Regions from separate parts of the Homo sapiens genome. Here regions 2, 3, 4 and 5 are each linked to region 1. Evidence: fine-mapped expression QTL. A gene starts in region 1. Each other region holds a variant in brackets. All regions are shown on one strand. Distances are between the middles of the regions.

Region 1 (4,119 bases):
GATTCTGAACAGCCCCGAGTCACGGTGGGTACAACTGGAACGACCACCGTGAGAAAAACTGTGTCCAAAACTCTCTCCTGGCCCCTGCTGGAGGCCGCGCCAGAGAGGGGAGCAGCCGCCCCGAACCTAGGTCCTGCTCAGCTCACACGACCCCCAGCAGCCAGAGCACAGTGGAGTCCCCACTGAACCCCACTGAATGGTGAGGACGGGGACCAGGGCTCCAGGGGGTCATGGAAGGGGCTGGACCCCATCCTACTGCTATGGTCCCAGTGCTCCTGGCCAGAACTGACCCTACCACCGACAAGAGTCCCTCAGGGAAACGGGGGTCACTGGCACCTCCCAGCATCAACCCCAGGCAGCACAGGCATAAACCCCACATCCAGAGCCGACTCCAGGAGCAGAGACACCCCAGTACCCTGGGGGACACCGACCCTGATGACTCCCCACTGGAATCCACCCCAGAGTCCACCAGGACCAAAGACCCCGCCCCGGTCTCTGTCCCTCACTCAGGACCTGCTGCGGGGCGGGCCATGAGACCAGACTCGGGCTTAGGGAACACCACTGTGGCCCCAACCTCGACCAGGCCACAGGCCCTTCCTTCCTGCCCTGCGGCAGCACAGACTTTGGGGTCTGTGCAGAGAGGAATCACAGAGGCCCCAGGCTGAGGTGGTGGGGGTGGAAGACCCCCAGGAGGTGGCCCACTTCCCTTCCTCCCAGCTGGAACCCACCATGACCTTCTTAAGATAGGGGTGTCATCCGAGGCAGGTCCTCCATGGAGCTCCCTTCAGGCTCCTCCCTGGTCCTCACTAGGCCTCAGTCCCGGCTGTGGGAATGCAGCCACCACAGGCACACCAGGCAGCCCAGACCCAGCCAGCCTGCAGTGCCCAAGCCCACATTCTGGAGCAGAGCAGGCTGTGTCTGGGAGAGTCTGGGCTCCCCACCGCCCCCCGCACACCCCACCCACCCCTGTCCAGGCCCTATGCAGGAGGGTCAGAGCCCCCCATGGGGTATGGACTTAGGGTCTCACTCACGCGGCTCCCCTCCTGGGTGAAGGGGTCTCATGCCCAGATCCCCACAGCAGAGCTGGTCAAAGGTGGAGGCAGTGGCCCCAGGGCCACCCTGACCTGGACCCTCAGGCTCCTCTAGCCCTGGCTGCCCTGCTGTCCCTGGGAGGCCTGGACTCCACCAGACCACAGGTCCAGGGCACCGCCCATAGGTGCTGCCCACACTCAGTTCACAGGAAGAAGATAAGCTCCAGACCCCCAAGACTGGGACCTGCCTTCCTGCCACCGCTTGTAGCTCCAGACCTCCGTGCCTCCCCCGACCACTTACACACGGGCCAGGGAGCTGTTCCACAAAGATCAACCCCAAACCGGGACCGCCTGGCACTCGGGCCGCTGCCACTTCCCTCTCCATTTGCTCCCAGCACCTCTGTGCTCCCTCCCTCCTCCCTCCTTCAGGGGAACAGCCTGTGCAGCCCCTCCCTGCACCCCACACCCTGGGGAGGCCCAACCCTGCCTCCAGCCCTTTCTCCCCCGCTGCTCTTCCTGCCCATCCAGACAACCCTGGGGTCCCATCCCTGCAGCCTACACCCTGGTCTCCACCCAGACCCCTGTCTCTCCCTCCAGACACCCCTCCCAGGCCAACCCTGCACATGCAGGCCCTCCCCTTTTCTGCTGCCAGAGCCTCAGTTTCTACCCTCTGTGCCTACCCCCTGCCTCCTCCTGCCCACAACTCGAGCTCTTCCTCTCCTGGGGCCCCTGAGCCATGGCACTGACCGTGCACTCCCACCCCCACACTGCCCATGCCCTCACCTTCCTCCTGGACACTCTGACCCTGCTCCCCTCTTGGACCCAGCCCTGGTATTTCCAGGACAAAGGCTCACCCAAGTCTTCCCCATGCAGGCCCTTGCCCTCACTGCCCGGTTACACGGCAGCCTCCTGTGCACAGAAGCAGGGAGCTCAGCCCTTCCACAGGCAGAAGGCACTGAAAGAAATCGGCCTCCAGCACCCTGATGCACGTCCGCCTGTGTCTCTCACTGCCCGCACCTGCAGGGAGGCTCGGCACTCCCTGTAAAGACGAGGGATCCAGGCAGCAACATCATGGGAGAATGCAGGGCTCCCAGACAGCCCAGCCCTCTCGCAGGCCTCTCCTGGGAAGAGACCTGCAGCCACCACTGAACAGCCACGGAGCCCGCTGGATAGTAACTGAGTCAGTGACCGACCTGGAGGGCAGGGGAGCAGTGAACCGGAGCCCAGACCATAGGGACAGAGACCAGCCGCTGACATCCCGAGCCCCTCACTGGCGGCCCCAGAACACCGCGTGGAAACAGAACAGACCCACATTCCCACCTGGAACAGGGCAGACACTGCTGAGCCCCCAGCACCAGCCCTGAGAAACACCAGGCAACGGCATCAGAGGGGGCTCCTGAGAAAGAAAGGAGGGGAGGTCTCCTTCACCAGCAAGTACTTCCCTTGACCAAAAACAGGGTCCACGCAACTCCCCCAGGACAAAGGAGGAGCCCCCTGTACAGCACTGGGCTCAGAGTCCTCTCCAACACACCCTGAGTTTCAGACAAAAACCCCCTGGAAATCATAGTATCAGCAGGAGAACTAGCCAGAGACAGCAAGAGGGGACTCAGTGACTCCCGCGGGGACAGGAGGATTTTGTGGGGGCTCGTGTCACTGTGAGGATATTGTAGTAGTACCAGCTGCTATGCCCACAGTGACACAGCCCCATTCCCAAAGCCCTGCTGTAAACGCTTCCACTTCTGGAGCTGAGGGGCTGGGGGGAGCGTCTGGGAAGTAGGGCCTAGGGGTGGCCATCAATGCCCAAAACGCACCAGACTCCCCCCCAGACATCACCCCACTGGCCAGTGAGCAGAGTAAACAGAAAATGAGAAGCAGCTGGGAAGCTTGCACAGGCCCCAAGGAAAGAGCTTTGGCGGGTGTGCAAGAGGGGATGCGGGCAGAGCCTGAGCAGGGCCTTTTGCTGTTTCTGCTTTCCTGTGCAGATAGTTCCATAAACTGGTGTTCAAGATCGATGGCTGGGAGTGAGCCCAGGAGGACAGTGTGGGAAGGGCACAGGGAAGGAGAAGCAGCCGCTATCCTACACTGTCATCTTTCAAGAGTTTGCCCTGTGCCCACAATGCTGCATCATGGGATGCTTAACAGCTGATGTAGACACAGCTAAAGAGAGAATCAGTGAAATGGATTTGCAGCACAGATCTGAATAAATTCTCCAGAATGTGGAGCCACACAGAAGCAAGCACAAGGAAAGTGCCTGATGCAAGGGCAAAGTACAGTGTGTACCTTCAGGCTGGGCACAGACACTCTGAAAAGCCTTGGCAGGAACTCCCTGCAACAAAGCAGAGCCCTGCAGGCAATGCCAGCTCCAGAGCCCTCCCTGAGAGCCTCATGGGCAAAGATGTGCAGAACATATGTTTGTCATAGCCCCAAACTGAGAATGAAGCAAACAGCCATCTGAAGGAAAACAGGCAAATAAACGATGGCAGGTTCATGAAATGCAAACCCAGACAGCCAGAAGGACAACAGTGAGGGTTACAGGTGACTCTGTGGTTGAGTTCATGACAATGCTGAGTAATTGGAGTAACAAAGGAAAGTCCAAAAAATACTTTCAATGTGATTTCTTCTAAATAAAATTTACAGCCGGCAAAATGAACTATCTTCTTAAGGGATAAACTTTCCACTAGGAAAACTATAAGGAAAATCAAGAAAAGGATGATCACATAAACACAGTGGTCGTTACTTCTACTGGGGAAGGAAGAGGGTATGAACTGAGACACACAGGGTTGGCAAGTCTCCTAACAAGAAGAGAACAAATACATTACAGTACCTTGAAAACAGCAGTTAAAATTCTAAATTGCAAGAAGAGGAAAATGCACACAGCTGTGTTTAGAAAATTCTCAGTCCAGCACTGTTCATAATAGCAAAGACATTAACCCAGGTTGGATAAATAAACGATGACACAGGCAATTGCACAATGATACAGACATACATTCAGTATATGAGACATTGATGATGTATCCCCAAAGAAATGACTTTAAAGAGAAAAGGCCTGATATGTGGTGGCACTCACCTCCCTGGGCATCCCCGGACA
Region 2 (4,119 bases), 7.9 kb before region 1:
CTCCTTCCCTCCCTCCCGCTCTCTTGGTTGGACAGCTCTCCATCATCCCCCTGGACACGACCACCTCCCAAGGCCGAGCTGGGGCGCTTTGCTCGAGGTGAGCACTGACATCCTGGGGGTGTGAGGGGCACCTGCCCAGCGGCCCCGTGTGCAGGATGGGCGGTGGGCCCTAGCTGGCACTGGGCATATGGCCCGGCTGGTGCCTGCAGGCTGCAGCTTTTCTGGGGTGGCTGGGATCAGTGAAGGCCTCCAGAGTCTGGGCCTGGGATCCCTGCAGTGCTGGCTGAGGACAGGCGGGGCTGGGCAGTGAGGGCACTGGGTCACTATCACCACCCACGGTTTATTACTTCACTAGGTGGGACCTGGCACCCCTGCCTTCCTGACACCCTGGAATCCCTGCCTCCTCCTACAGCCCCCAAGCCCATCTCCCTCAGAGCCTCCAGAGACAGACCTGGGGAGGCATTTCTTCTGCCCCCAGCAGAAGCCCGGGAGGCCGGGAAGGCACAGTGGGTCTAAAGGAGAGGATCCCAGGACTGCCTGAGGGGTGACTCCGACGAGGCAAGCATAGAGCCCACTGAGAAGCGGGGTGGGAGCCCCACCAGGGATGGGCTAGTTCCTCATGAAGGACCAGGACCCAGGAAGGACAAGGGGGCCTGCTGGGGCAGGGTCTGCTATGCCGGAGTCCCTGTGAGCCTGGCCCAGACCTGCCTCTCTCTTTCCTCATTGGTCCCCACAGGTCCGTGGTGGTTGCCGTATCGGGAGGCCCCATGGTGGCAGGGGTGGGACACCTGGTATACGTCGCCAGGTGTGTCCAATAGGCTCATGCTCACACCTTCTCCTGGCACCTGGGCAAAGCCTGAGCACCCAGGCACTGAAGTGAGGGCAAGGCCTCGGGGCCCCACAGGATGGCCGAGGAGACAGCTGCAGGGCGCCTGGGACCCCTGGGCTCAGGAGGTAGAAGGATACAGCCTGAAAACCCACACCACAAGCTCACCGGCCAGTGCAGGCCCACAGAGCTCGAGGAGGCAGCCCTGAGCCTCCCAGGGAGAGATGCTCTGTGCACGCCGGCACAGGCCCTGGGTTACAAACCCTAGGCACAGCCCAGGAGAGGCCCAGGCCCCAGTCCAGCAAGGGGTTGCAGGAAGCAAGAGGTCCCCGGCCACAGCATGAGATAAGCCCATCAAGCCAGGGCCAGGTGGGCAATGGGAGGCAGGCAGGGCTTGGGGGTGAGTCCCTGCTGCAGCGCCGTCCACTGTCGACCGGAGGAGTTTCTTCCCTGTGCGGAGTCCACGGGCCTCCTGTGAGTGTGTGCATGGGCACAAGTGTGTGTGTGGCTCTGCTGTGTGTCTGTACACACGTATGTTTTGGGTTTTTTTGTGTCTCAGACCACAGAGTCTGCCCCTCCCACCAAAGCCCAGGCAGAAGGATGAACCCACGCCCCTGGGGCCCAGGCCTCAGCAGCCTCTGCAGGATCATTGTTCCCAGTTGTCACTTGCCTTTGCCACAGCCCTATTTCTCCACAATTCCTTAAAGTCCTCAACATGCATTTAAGGCACAAAGGTGAAACTGCCCAGAAACATCTGACTCCGCCGTGGAACCCAGGAGCAAGCTGGGTTAGCTAAGGAGCGGGGCCGTTGGCAGAGGCTGGGGATCCAGGCTGAACTTTGGAGGAGGCATGTGCCAGCATGGGCTCCTGACTATGTCCTCCTGGGACAAACCCAAACCCACTCTTTGAATATGGGAGGGACTTTGCTGGCCCCGGCCCTGACCGCAGCACTTGGAAACTGAGGAGTGGTCGCCTCCTCCGTGTCACAGCTGCCCGTTCACCATCATAGAAGCAACTCTGTCACCTCCATGGGCCCCTCTGTGGCTGCTGCCTGGGTCCAAGCTGAGCCCAGCTGCCCAGGCCCAGAAGGAAAGCCCAGGCCAGGTGCCCAGCACAGAGGCAGTCACATACCCCGGGGAGAGCCACAGCAAGCAGCCAATGTTGCCCAGGAGAGGAGTAGCTGACAAGGTAGAACGTGAGCTGCCATCGGCTCGAGAGGCTTTGCTGGTCCTCCTGGGGCTCTGGACATGACCAGGAGGAGCGAGGGAAGAAGTCGCATGGTGGTCCCATCCTG[G/C]GTGGGGCCTGATGGCAGCTGGCCACCCGTCCCAGAGTGGCAGCCAGATGCCAGCGCCATTCCCACAGTCACATCATTGGTCACAGAATGCAGGACATAGAGTGTCTTCTTTCCATCACAGTGCTGTCCAGACCCATAGCCTAGGGTAGACCTGGAAGATTCAATGTCCACACCCGGGGCTGGAGCGTAGCCATGAGCCACGCCCCCTGCCCGTGCATGGAAAGCCAGCCCAAGCTCTGCTCCATCCCTAGCCAAAGTCAGTGTCCTTTCCCCTTCTCCCAAGTGAGCTCTAGCCACCTGCCTACCCTGCCATCTGAGGATGACAGCCTTCATTCCATTGGAACCTGGCTCTGCCACCAGCAGGCTTGCAGTCCTGGGCAGACTCCGTCACCTCTCTATGCCTCAGCCTTTCCATCTGCACAGGAGGAAGATGATGATGGTGGTGATGATGATGGCGATGGTTTCCTTTTGCATCTGAGGCAAGGACTAATTGAGATGATACACATCAGGCACTGGGTATGGTGCTGGTCCTTCCTGAGCACTCAATCTATGTGAGCTGTCCTTGTGAAATGGGTGTCACCACATTTCCCCACGCAGAACATCCTTTGTCTGCCATACTTGAAACGTCTGCCCCAATACTAACAGCTCCTCATGGAAGATGTGCACACCCACCCACCCTCATACTCCCAAAGGTGCCCGTGCTTTATCAAGCCAAAGTCCAGCCAGGAACTTTACAGCAGCATCCCTTTCCCTCTCCAAGCACCAAGGAGCAAGGCAAAGCACTACATCTTCCATCTGGAGGCAATGCCACCCTCTTCTCCCATTTTCACTGCCATCCCTAAGAGGCAGTGCTTCCCCAAAAGGTTCCATAGCAGCCTGCCTACAGCAACTCTGTTCACACGAGTTTCAGCATCCTTGCAGTGGCTCCCCTGCCATGCTGTGGCTCTTCATTCACCCTCTTCTCCTGCTCCCCGTGACAGGCATAGATTCTGAGTGATCTGGATACATTGCTTTGTTTAATAACATTACAGCTTCTGTGCTGAAAAAGATACAGCAGATAGAGAAGGCAATTGTTGAACACAAAATAGTGACAGCAGAGATGACGGCAAGTTGGCATTTTTCTTTTCTAGCAATAAAACTTAAAGCTGACTCAAGGAGAAATGGAAATCATAATTGGAACAGTAATCCTCAAGAAAGCATTAAGATTATTAAATAATTGCCCTCACAGATGACTTCAGGCCAAGATGGCTTTATGGGTGAAGTTTAGACTTTCACAAAACTAATCAGTTCCCATAAGAACTGCTCCAGGATTTGGAGGAACATGGGAAAGTCTATTAAAGGGATCACAATTCACAGTCCCCAGAGTAAAACATGGGCTAACTTGCATTTTGGCAAAGAGCCAAATGTTATAAATGACATCCTAGAAGGCCAAATTCTGTCCATCTCGTTGAACAAGGACTTACACCAGGAATTTAGAACTATTTATAGCTCATCCCACCACTCAGGCCAATGATGACCCATGATCATCTCACCAGAAATGGAAAGACTCAGATGATTAATAGAGTCTCAATTTCTCTGAGACATCTAAGAGCCCAGCCCAAGCCCAGACCCAGGAGGGCACCCAGGCCTGGACAGAGAACACTGATATCACACCAGCCCTCCAGAGGGAAGCAGAGACTCCTTCAAGCTCTGGAAACACAGGCCCAGACAGCTGCCTAAAGTTGGGCAGGCTTCACTGCAAACCCAAATCATGAAGCTAGGTAACACCTTTACAGATTCTTTACATTTAAAAATCATCAAAACAAGAGTAAATAATAAACTCAAATAATATTAATCTAATATGTAAAGGTCTTGTACCATTATTATGCAAACAACATACATAAGCTAATAAGAAAAAGAACAAATCCCTTAAGAAATCGGCAAAAAGGATATAACACAATTTCTAAAAGAAAACAAATGGCTAGCACACATAAGGAAAACACTTTGTGAACAGACATTC
Region 3 (4,119 bases), 10 kb after region 1:
CACACCCTGGAGGAGAGCAGGGTGCGTCTGGGAGGGGCTGGGCTCCCCACCCCCACCCCCACCTGCACACCCCACCCACCCTTGCCCGGGCCCCCTGCAGGAGGGTCAGAGCCCCCATGGGATATGGACTTAGGGTCTCACTCACGCACCTCCCCTCCTGGGAGAAGGGGTCTCATGCCCAGATCCCCCCAGCAGCGCTGGTCACAGGTAGAGGCAGTGGCCCCAGGGCCACCCTGACCTGGCCCCTCAGGCTCCTCTAGCCCTGGCTGCCCTGCTGTCCCTGGGAGGCCTGGGCTCCACCAGACCACAGGTCTAGGGCACCGCCCACACTGGGGCCGCCCACACACAGCTCACAGGAAGAAGATAAGCTCCAGACCCCCAGGCCCGGGACCTGCCTTGCTGCTACGACTTCCTGCCCCAGACCTCGTTGCCCTCCCCCGTCCACTTACACACAGGCCAGGAAGCTGTTCCCACACAGACCAACCCCAGACGGGGACCACCTGGCACTCAGGTCACTGCCATTTCCTTCTCCATTCACTTCCAATGCCTCTGTGCTTCCTCCCTCCTCCTTCCTTCGGGGGAGCACCCTGTGCAGCTCCTCCCTGCAGTCCACACCCTGGGGAGACCCGACCCTGCAGCCCACACCCTGGGGAGACCTGACCCTCCTCCAGCCCTTTCTCCCCCGCTGCTCTTGCCACCCACCAAGACAGCCCTGGGGTCCTGTCCCTACAGCCCCCACCCAGTTCTCTACCTAGACCCGTCTTCCTCCCTCTAAACACCTCTCCCAGGCCAACCCTACACCTGCAGGCCCTCCCCTCCACTGCCAAAGACCCTCAGTTTCTCCTGCCTGTGCCCACCCCCGTGCTCCTCCTGCCCACAGCTCGAGCTCTTCCTCTCCTAGGGCCCCTGAGGGATGGCATTGACCGTGCCCTCGCACCCACACACTGCCCATGCCCTCACATTCCTCCTGGCCACTCCAGCCCCACTCCCCTCTCAGGCCTGGCTCTGGTATTTCTGGGACAAAGCCTTACCCAAGTCTTTCCCATGCAGGCCTGGGCCCTTACCCTCACTGCCCGGTTACAGGGCAGCCTCCTGTGCACAGAAGCAGGGAGCTCAGCCCTTCCACAGGCAGAAGGCACTGAAAGAAATCGGCCTCCAGCGCCTTGACACACGTCTGCCTGTGTCTCTCACTGCCCGCACCTGCAGGGAGGCTCGGCACTCCCTCTAAAGACGAGGGATCCAGGCAGCAGCATCACAGGAGAATGCAGGGCTACCAGACATCCCAGTCCTCTCACAGGCCTCTCCTGGGAAGAGACCTGAAGACGCCCAGTCAACGGAGTCTAACACCAAACCTCCCTGGAGGCCGATGGGTAGTAACGGAGTCATTGCCAGACCTGGAGGCAGGGGAGCAGTGAGCCCGAGCCCACACCATAGGGCCAGAGGACAGCCACTGACATCCCAAGCCACTCACTGGTGGTCCCACAACACCCCATGGAAAGAGGACAGACCCACAGTCCCACCTGGACCAGGGCAGAGACTGCTGAGACCCAGCACCAGAACCAACCAAGAAACACCAGGCAACAGCATCAGAGGGGGCTCTGGCAGAACAGAGGAGGGGAGGTCTCCTTCACCAGCAGGCGCTTCCCTTGACCGAAGACAGGATCCATGCAACTCCCCCAGGACAAAGGAGGAGCCCCTTGTTCAGCACTGGGCTCAGAGTCCTCTCCAAGACACCCAGAGTTTCAGACAAAAACCCCCTGGAATGCACAGTCTCAGCAGGAGAGCCAGCCAGAGCCAGCAAGATGGGGCTCAGTGACACCCGCAGGGACAGGAGGATTTTGTGGGGGCTCGTGTCACTGTGAGGATATTGTACTAATGGTGTATGCTATACCCACAGTGACACAGCCCCATTCCCAAAGCCCTACTGCAAACGCATTCCACTTCTGGGGCTGAGGGGCTGGGGGAGCGTCTGGGAAATAGGGCTCAGGGGTGTCCATCAATGCCCAAAACGCACCAGACTCCCCTCCATACATCACACCCACCAGCCAGCGAGCAGAGTAAACAGAAAATGAGAAGCAAGCTGGGGAAGCTTGCACAGGCCCCAAGGAAAGAGCTTTGGCGGGTGTGTAAGAGGGGATGCGGGCAGAGCCTGAGCAGGGCCTTTTGCTGTTTCTGCTTTCCTGTGCAGAGAGTTCCATAAACTGGTGTTCGAGATCAATGGCTGGGAGTGAGCCCAGGAGGACAGCGTGGGAAGAGCACAGGGAAGGAGGAGCAGCCGCTATCCTACACTGTCATCTTTCGAAAGTTTGCCTTGTGCCCACACTGCTGCATCATGGGATGCTTAACAGCTGATGTAGACACAGCTAAAGAGAGAATCAGTGAGATGGATTTGCAGCACAGATCTGAATAAATTCTCCAGAATGTGGAGCAGCACAGAAGCAAGCACACAGAAAGTGCCTGATGCAAGGACAAAGTTCAGTGGGCACCTTCAGGCATTGCTGCTGGGCACAGACA[C/T]TCTGAAAAGCCCTGGCAGGAACTCCCTGTGACAAAGCAGAACCCTCAGGCAATGCCAGCCCCAGAGCCCTCCCTGAGAGCCTCATGGGCAAAGATGTGCACAACAGGTGTTTCTCATAGCCCCAAACTGAGAGCAAAGCAAACGTCCATCTGAAGGAGAACAGGCAAATAAACGATGGCAGGTTCATGAAATGCAAACCCAGACAGCCACAAGCACAAAAGTACAGGGTTATAAGCGACTCTGGTTGAGTTCATGACAATGCTGAGTAATTGGAGTAACAAAGTAAACTCCAAAAAATACTTTCAATGTGATTTCTTCTAAATAAAATTTACACCCTGCAAAATGAACTGTCTTCTTAAGGGATACATTTCCCAGTTAGAAAACCATAAAGAAAACCAAGAAAAGGATGATCACATAAACACAGTGGTGGTTACTTCTGCTGGGGAAGGAAGAGGGTATGAACTGAGATACACAGGGTGGGCAAGTCTCCTAACAAGAACAGAACGAATACATTACAGTACCTTGAAAACAGCAGTTAAACTTCTAAATTGCAAGAAGAGGAAAATGGACACAGTTGTGTTTAGAAAATTCTCAGTCCAGCACTGTTCATAATAGCAAAGACATTAACCCAGGTCGGATAAATAAGCGATGACACAGGCAATTGCACAATGATACAGACATATATTTAGTATATGAGACATCGATGATGTATCCCCAAATAAACGACTTTAAAGAGATAAAGGGCTGATGTGTGGTGGCATTCACCTCCCTGGGATCCCCGGACAGGTTGCAGGCTCACTGTGCAGCAGGGCAGGCGGGTACCTGCTGGCAGTTCCTGGGGCCTGATGTGGAGCAAGCGCAGGGCCATATATCCCGGAGGACGGCACAGTCAGTGAATTCCAGAGAGAAGCAACTCAGCCACACTCCCCAGGCAGAGCCCGAGAGGGACGCCCACGCACAGGGAGGCAGAGCCCAGCACCTCCGCAGCCAGCACCACCTGTGCACGGGCCACCACCTTGCAGGCACAGAGTGGGTGCTGAGAGGAGGGGCAGGGACACCAGGCAGGGTGAGCACCCAGAGAAAACTGCAGACGCCTCACACATCCACCTCAGCCTCCCCTGACCTGGACCTCACTGGCCTGGGCCTCACTTAACCTGGGCTTCACCTGACCTTGGCCTCACCTGACTTGGACCTCGCCTGTCCCAAGCTTTACCTGACCTGGGCCTCAACTCACCTGAACGTCTCCTGACCTGGGTTTAACCTGTCCTGGAACTCACCTGGCCTTGGCTTCCCCTGACCTGGACCTCATCTGGCCTGGGCTTCACCTGGCCTGGGCCTCACCTGACCTGGACCTCATCTGGCCTGGACCTCACCTGGCCTGGACTTCACCTGGCCTGGGCTTCACCTGACCTGGACCTCACCTGGCCTCGGGCCTCACCTGCACCTGCTCCAGGTCTTGCTGGAGCCTGAGTAGCACTGAGGGTGCAGAAGCTCATCCAGGGTTGGGGAATGACTCTAGAAGTCTCCCACATCTGACCTTTCTGGGTGGAGGCAGCTGGTGGCCCTGGGAATATAAAAATCTCCAGAATGATGACTCTGTGATT
Region 4 (4,119 bases), 53 kb before region 1:
TGCAGCAGCTGCCGTCCTGTCCAGGCCCACCCCCTGCCCCGCCCTGGGACTGTTACCTCATTCCCTCCCGGAGTCCAGGTGCCCCCCGGGGTGTGGTGCGGGAGCCTGGGGAGGCCCTTTGTTCTCTGTCAGGGTCTCCCTGGGAGGGACGCAGCCACCGCAGCTGGTTGGGGCCTGGCTTCGCCCAGGACAGTCCTTTCCTTTCCCATTGTCTTTGGATGACTATCGCTGGGCTGGGACATGAGGCGGGCAGAGGCGCGGGTCACCCTTAGGACCCCCCTCTTGCTGCTGGGGCTCTGGGCGCTCCTGGCTCCGGTCCGGTGTTCTCAAGGCCGTCCCTTGTGGCACTACGCCTCCTCCGAGGTGGTGATTCCCAGGAAGGAGACACACCATAGCAAAGGCCTTCAGTTTCCCGGCTGGCTGTCCTACAGCCTGTGTTTTGGGGTCAAAGACACGTCATTCACATGCGGAGGAAACACCTTCTTTGGCCTAGACATCTGCTGGTGACAACTCAGGATGACCAAGGAGTCTTGCAGATGGGTGACCCCTACATCCCTCCAGACTGCTAGTACCTCGGCTACCTGGAGGAGGTGCCTCTGTCCATGGTCACCGTCGACACGTGCTATGGGGACCTCAGAGGCATCATGAGGCTGGACGACCTTGCGTACGAAATCAAACCCCTCCAGGATTCCCGCAGGTTTGAACATGTTGTTTTTCAGATAGTGGCCGAGCCCAACGCAACAGGGCCCACATTTAGAGATGATGACAATGAGACAGACCCCCTGTTCTCTGAAGCAAATGACAGCATGAATCCCAGGATATCTAATTCGCTGTATAGTTCTCATAGAGGCAATATAAAAGGCCACGTTCAATGTTCCAATTCATATTATCGCATATATGGCAATATTACAACTTGTTCCAAAGAGGTGGTCCAGATGTTCAGTCTCATTGACAGCATTGCTCAAAATATTGATCTGCGGTACTATATTTATCTTTTGACCATATATAATAATCGTGACCCAGCCCCTGTGAATGAATATCGAATTCAGAGTGCAATGTTTACCTATTTTAAAACAACTTTTTTTGATACTTTTCATGTTCATTCATCCACACTACTTATTAAATACGTGCCACATGAATCTAACTATGAACCTGAAAGGTATAACTTCTGTTCCCGTATAGCCCTGTTACACATTGGTACTCCAGGCAGACATTATTTATTGGTAGCCGTCATAATAACCCAGACACAGATGAGAAGTATTGGTCTGGAGTATGATGATAACTACTGCACATGTCAGAGAAGGGCCTCCTGCATTATGCAGCGATTTCCTGGGATGACAGATGCGTTCAGTAACTGTTCTTATGGACATGCACAAAATTGTTTTATACATTCAGGCCAGTGTGTTTTTGAAACACTTGCTCCTGTGTATAACGAAACCATGACAACGGTTCGCTGTGGAAACCTCATAGTGGAGGGGAGGGAGGAATGTGACTGTGGCTCCTTCAAGCAGTGTTATGCCAGTTATTGCTGCCAAAGTGACTGTCACTTAACACCGGGGAGCATCTGCCATATAGGAGAGTGCTGTACAAACTGCAGCTTCTCCCCACCAGGGACTCTCTGCAGACCTATCCAAAATATATGTGACCTTCCAGAGTACTGTCACGGGACCACCGTGACATGTCCCGCAAACGTTTATACGCAAGATGGAACCCCGTGCACTGAAGAAGGCTACTGCTATCGTGGGAACTGCACTGATCGCAATGTGCTCTGCAAGGCGATCTTTGGTGTCAGTGCTGAGGATGCTCCCGAGGTCTGCTATGACATAAATCTTGAAAGCTACCGATTTGGACATTGTATTAGACAACAAACATATCTCAGCTACCAGGCTTGTGCAGGAATAGATAAGTTTTGTGGAAGACTGCAGTGTACCAATGTGACCCATCTTCCCCGGCTGCAGGAACGTGTTTCATTCCATCACTCAGTGAGAGGAGGGTTTCAGTGTTTTGGACTGGATGAACACCATGCAACAGACACGACTGATGTTGGGCGTGTGATAGATGGCACTCCTTGTGTTCATGGAAACTTCTGTAATAACACCCAGTGCAATGTGACTATCACTTCACTGGGCTACAACTGCCACCCTCAGAAGTGCGGTCATAGAGGAGTCTGCAACAACAGAAGGAACTGCCATTGCCATATAGGCTGGGATCCTCCACTGTGCCTAAGAAGAGGTGCTGGTGGGAGTGTCAACAGCGGGCCACCTCCAAAAAGAACACGTTCC[G/A]TCAAACAAAGCCAGCAATCAGTGATGTATCTGAGAGTGGTCTTTGGTCGTATTTACGCCTTCATAATTGCACTGCTCTTTGGGACAGCCAAAAATGTGCGAACTATCAGGACCACCACCGTTAAGGAAGGGACAGTTACTAACCCTGAATAACACTAATTCAGCCTCCCGATCCCTGTAAAGATACAGAGAATATAACAGCAAAATCTATGAAACAGGATCAGGGGAAGGGATGGCAAAGCTCAAGTCCACATTTCTTGAAGTCCACAGGAAGCACAGGGTCCTGTTTCACATCACAGGGAAACGGGAGGCATTGGCTTCTGTCCCAGGTTCTTGTAGGTCGCTGATGCTCACTCTGAAATAAATCTTCAAAAACACATTGGTGCCTTCCACATTTTCTTAGACTCCTCTGGGAGCCCAAACTTGGCCAGAACCTCTTGCCTGGAGAGACATGAATGAGCATCTGGCTCTTGACCTGAGGTCTCTGGTCCCAGAATTAACGGAAGTTGCCACCAGCTCCTTACAGGGAACATTCATGACATTTCTCCAGAAGAGAGCTCCAGAGCAATGAGCTTCCTCATTCCCCAGGTAATCTGTCCTTCTCTAAACCCGAAGTCAGTTTAGGGTGATCCAGGGCTACTCCCTGTTCCCTGTCTGTTCCTCACGGGGGTGCTGTGGGCTTTTCAGTGAGAGGGACTTGGGTTCAAATCCCCCACCAAGCAAATCCCCCTACCTGGGGCCGAGCTTCCCGTATGTGGGAAAATGAATCCCTGAGGTCGATTGCTGCATGCAATGAAATTCAACTAGAAAAATAGGTAGACGTGAGGGGCAAGCTGTCTGTCATTTAGTGTGAGCTCTGTGAGTGGCAGCTGCCCCCTTTCTTCCTGCCCCCACATTTCCTTGAACTGAAACAGGAAGGGAAGCTGAGTAAGTCGTGATGAGGAAGAGAAACCAGGCTTGTAGCAGCACAGGCTGGTCCGGGTGGAAAACAGGGCTAGGTGTATCACTGAGTTATTGTAAAGGAAAATGGAAGTTAAATGTATAAATAACTGAATGAGATAACATTTTATTTTAACTTAAAATTCACACTAATATTGACTTTTAAAATGCAGTGTAGATATGTCAGAGAGAATTTCAAAGGCAAAGCCCACCGACGGAAGAAATCACCCTTCCCATACCATCCACAGAAAACTGTTGGTATTCTAGGGTAGTACTGAGATCTAGCATTTTTCTGAATACATCCGTGGTTCTAGATGTCCTGCTTCCATAGATATTGTTTAGAATTCCCACCCCTTTCTCCAAACACAGCTTGATATCCTTTCTCTGAACCTGTTAGAAATTTCCTCCATTCAGCTGTCATAAAGATGCGAGCAATCCATTCCTGTGCCTCTGTCAGTGTGTTCTATTATTTTGTGGGTGAACGCTAATGGACAGTTAAGTGTGAGGTCAGTGAATACAGTGCCCTCCCTCTATGTGTCCTTCGGGTGTGAGGGGTTTTGCTGATAGAGCAGCAGGCCCCATCCCACCCTTTATGCATCTCCGCCCCCCACCTCACGCTCCAGCTGACCTCTCCCCTGTGGCCTGGGGCGTTCCCCAGGGGGAATGACCTCTCCTCTCTCCAGGGCCCACCCACTCAGTGCCCGTGCAAGACCACCACGCTTGGCACGGCCCCACCTCGCGTCAGGGCCTGTGTCCCCTGCCCCACCCCCTAAACAGATGGGAACCACTGGGACTCTGCTCAGGGCAGGGGGCGGAGGTATGTGTGAAAGGAAGGCAAATGTGCACTCTGTTGGAGAAATATTATAGGTAGTTTGAGCAAAAAATCTAATGCCATGTG
Region 5 (4,119 bases), 71 kb before region 1:
AATAGTGTACGTTTCAACCAACTCGGTGATTTTATATTTTCTATTTGCTGATAGAGACATGTTCATTTTTGTCAATCACTTTGCTAAATGTGGCTGAGAGGCTGTTGAAATGAACGCCGAGCAAATGTATTCACCAAATCTACAAGAGCAAATTATTTGCCAATTGCTGATTGAGTGGGGTCTATAATGTATTTGAGATTGGGTGTGGGGATGTTATTGTGTGAGATCATGATGTTTAGACCATGACACTCTCTGGTGAGGGATCACTCATTCATTGCACATTTAATGAAAGGCAGGTAGGAGGAGCAGAAGGGGATGAGTCACACTCCTGACCACAGCCACAGGTTATTGAAGGCAGAACTGATGTAATCCCCTAAGGTAGACCACTGCCCCTCCAAGGTGACCTTATCCTAGAGTTGACACACATCCTGGGACACCAGAGACAACTCCTTCTCTCCCCTTTCTCTGCACTTCAGCTGGAAGCAACTGTCTCACCGAGCACCTTGTGTTAAGGAATGAGAGTTCCTGTTCCAGGTGTGAGGGCCCAGGTGCATCCACTTGATCCAGCACAAGAGCAAGAACAGCCTTCCAGAAAATGACATCGCCTGAGGTATAACCAGCTCTCACCTGCTGCAGCTTCCTCTGAATAAAAAGGAAACTGTTGAAACTTCCTCATAAGTGTCCTGCTGTGCCATTCCCTTTGTCCCCACATGTTCAGTTGTGTCTGTCCAGATGTCACTTTTGTGTAGGGAGATTAGGGTTCTGCTTCCAGTACCAGAACACACATGACCTCTTAGGGGACTTCAGGGTTTTGCTGACATATGTGATGATCTTAAAAGTCATTAGCTCCATTTCTACATCAAAAAACATCTGAACCAGAGGAGCACATAGGCTCAGGCCTGTAATCCCAGCACTTTGGGAAGCCAAGGCAGAGGAATCACTTGAGGTCAGGAATTTGAGACCAGCCTGGTGAACATGGTGAAACCCCGTCTCTACTAAAAAATATATACAAAAATTAGCCAGGCGTGGTGGCACTAGCCTGTAATCCCAGCTACTTGAAAGGCTGAGGCAGGAGAATTGCTTGAACCCAGGAGGTGGAGATTGAAGTGAGCTGAGATCGCACCACTTCACTCCAGCCTGGGCGACAGAGTGAGCCTCCATCTAAAAAAAAAAAAAAATTTATATATATATATATATATATATATAATAAATATATATTATATATTATATATATATTTTATATAATATATATGTATATTTTTATATATTATACATACATATTTATATATTATATATAATATGTATATATAATATATAATATGTATATTTATATATTATATAATATGTATATTTATATATATTATACATATATATTTTTATATATATATATCTCCAAACCATCTAAATATCAAGTATTTTTTAATCCATCTAAGAGCTGAAATTGCTGAAAAAACTACTCCCTCCAAAAGCTGTAGAGACAGGCACATCCACAGTCACAGCAGAGACTTGCTGACTTGGAAGGGAAGCTCCTGGAGACACATTGGTGAGAACATTTACCTGGTGATTATGCTGAATGTCTGGAGGACAAATGTGGACTAGGGGGAGGGTGAGCACTCCTAGAGGCTGTACACCCCACACTTGTGTGGACTTGCCCTCCAGGGCCTTCAGGTTCTCGTGGAAGCAATTAAAATAGATTCCCTATAGCCATGAACTGGGGAGGAGTAATCACGGAGAAAAGATGCACAAAAAGACTTTTCTAGAAAGCTCATCCAAGGGAAGGTATTCTCCAAAATCTTAGTTTATGTGGGGGAAGGAAATACTTCCAAATTACAGACCCCTCCTCCTCAGCCTTCCTCTATCACGCAAATGATAAAATTAGCCAAGAGGAGTCAGATTCAAGGCGGTAGCCCTGGGTGCAGCATCTGCAGAAGGGAGGAAAGAGAGAAAATCAGCTGTATCACTGGAGATTCCTTGTGAAGGTCACTGCTCAGGAGAAGAGGGCAACCAAACCAGGGAGAGTCAACTGTAAGAACATACCATGCTCCCCTGCCCCACACATTACCTCCTCAACAGCATCATTAATATGGATTAAAGAGGGCAGTGTGATTGCTTTAGATCTGTTTGAGAAAGAAAGTCACATACTGAGGCCTAGGGTCAGGGTCGGCGGCACTTCCCGTGAGTAAGATACTACGAAGAAGGAAAAATTAGGGGTCCATAACTGTGAAAATCAGCCACAGTGTGTGTGAGAATGTTTGTGTTTGTGTTTCTGTGTGTTTGAGTAGGAGTTATTGGAACAGCGGACGTGGAGTGAGCTTTAATCCACATCCATCTGCAGCTTCAGGTATTCTCAGATGCAGTATTCATCTGCAAGAGC[C/A]GAAATGAGAAAAGAGCCACCTCCAACCCCCCCAGAGTTTTAGCCTCCCTTTGTTTCCAGTGATCCAGTGCATCTAGACCTCCAGGAAGTGGACTCCCTGGTGATTTTAGCGATTCTTCTCTTGGAGCCACCCTGAAGAGGACATTGGGTTTCCAAAGGCCCATTCACTATTTCAAGAGGTGGTGTCATCAGCTCATGTTGTCACTGAAGGAGCATTCTGAGCCAGGTCACAGTCACTTCCTAGTGAGCTACAGAGGCTGAGAGAAAAATGCTCTGTGAGACCCAATGGGAAGCTCCCTGCAGTGCAAGGTCTGGGTGGCAGGGAGCGCTAGGGCCTCGCCCAGCACAGGCTGCAGCCCTGGAGCAGGTGCAAGGGAGGCTGGGGAGGGGTTCCTCCCAGGGTCTGATGTCTTCCTTTTCTCGGACAAACATGCTTTAATAAGTTAAACAAGACTTTAGTAAAGACTATTGATGTGTCTTTGTGTCTTTCAGTATACAGTTCTATTTGTAGGATTTATCTAACCTAACAAGTCAATGAGAATCACATGTAAAAGGAGAAATTTCTAGGATTTTCAGATATCTTAATAGGTAGGAGATGGAGAAAAGGGATGGTTTTATTAATTCAGTGCTTGCCAATCTTAACAGAGACAGTAGTAAGACATGCAGAAAGCAAAGCCCAGAAAAGTATGAAGGTGTCAAAGTGCCATTTAAGTATGGGTTCACTTGGAGGACCATGTTCTGCGGGAACTTGTTTTCAGCAGACAATCTATTTTAGCAGAGTTCTGGGCATACAAGGGGACACACATCATTAAACAAGGATTGGGACAGGGACTTCAGCGTCCCACTGTTGCATGGCCCATAAATTATGTGTGTTCTCTTTCTCATCTTGGATCAAGTCTAGAGCTATGAAATAGTATCCCTCATGAATATGCAAATAACCTGAGATTTACTGAAGTAAATACAGATCTGTCCTGTGCCCTGAGAGCATCACCCAGCAACCACATCTGTCCTCTAGAGAATCCCCTGAGAGCTCCGTTCCTCACCATGGACTGGACCTGGAGGATCCTCTTCTTGGTGGCAGCAGCCACAGGTAAGAGGCTCCCTAGTCCCAGTGATGAGAAAGAGATTGAGTCCAGTCCAGGGAGATCTCATCCACTTCTGTGTTCTCTCCACAGGAGCCCACTCCCAGGTGCAGCTGGTGCAGTCTGGGGCTGAGGTGAAGAAGCCTGGGGCCTCAGTGAAGGTCTCCTGCAAGGCTTCTGGATACACCTTCACCGGCTACTATATGCACTGGGTGCGACAGGCCCCTGGACAAGGGCTTGAGTGGATGGGATGGATCAACCCTAACAGTGGTGGCACAAACTATGCACAGAAGTTTCAGGGCTGGGTCACCATGACCAGGGACACGTCCATCAGCACAGCCTACATGGAGCTGAGCAGGCTGAGATCTGACGACACGGCCGTGTATTACTGTGCGAGAGACACAGTGTGAAAACCCACATCCTGAGGGTGTCAGAAACCCCAGGGAGGAGGCAGCTGTGCTGGGGCTGAGAAATGAAAGGGATTACTATTTTTAATGTTGTTTACAGTATGTCATTAATAAATTGAAAAAAAGTAACAATAGAAGTATATACTCTAATTATATGGGAACTTTGTTTTTTCAGTTTTTTCATTTTTTTTTTTTTTTTTGGTTTGTTTGTGACAGAGTCTCACTCTGCCACCCAGGCTGGAGTGTAACGGCACAA

Evidence for each region. PIP is the estimated chance that this variant, and not a neighbour inherited with it, causes the effect.
Region 2: its variant is fine-mapped to the expression of FAM30A in whole blood (TOPMed, PIP above 0.99). The same link has a PIP of 0.9 or more in blood mononuclear cells.
Region 3: its variant is fine-mapped to the expression of FAM30A in whole blood (INTERVAL, PIP above 0.99).
Region 4: its variant is fine-mapped to the expression of FAM30A in whole blood (TOPMed, PIP 0.95).
Region 5: its variant is fine-mapped to the expression of FAM30A in whole blood (TOPMed, PIP above 0.99).

Annotation. Positions count from the first base shown.
Region 1 is chr14:105,915,427-105,919,545 of GRCh38, reverse strand. It overlaps FAM30A (family with sequence similarity 30 member A), which reads right to left and starts at 1,567. Exons shown (of 6, transcript NR_026800.2): 1 at 729-1,567. It also overlaps IGH, IGHD2-2 and IGHD1-1.
Region 2 is chr14:105,923,376-105,927,494 of GRCh38, reverse strand. It overlaps FAM30A (family with sequence similarity 30 member A), which reads right to left. Exons shown (of 6, transcript NR_026800.2): 6 at 1-3,159. It also overlaps IGH. Among named protein-coding and RNA genes, the nearest start is that of FAM30A, 7.5 kb to the right of the region's middle. The variant G/C (reference allele first, on the strand shown) is at 2,121.
Region 3 is chr14:105,904,984-105,909,102 of GRCh38, reverse strand. It overlaps IGH and IGHD2-8. Among named protein-coding and RNA genes, the nearest start is that of FAM30A, 11 kb to the left of the region's middle. The variant C/T (reference allele first, on the strand shown) is at 2,515.
Region 4 is chr14:105,968,271-105,972,389 of GRCh38, reverse strand. It overlaps IGH and the pseudogene ADAM6. Among named protein-coding and RNA genes, the nearest start is that of FAM30A, 52 kb to the right of the region's middle. The variant G/A (reference allele first, on the strand shown) is at 2,283.
Region 5 is chr14:105,986,319-105,990,437 of GRCh38, reverse strand. It overlaps IGH and IGHV1-2. Among named protein-coding and RNA genes, the nearest start is that of FAM30A, 70 kb to the right of the region's middle. The variant C/A (reference allele first, on the strand shown) is at 2,375.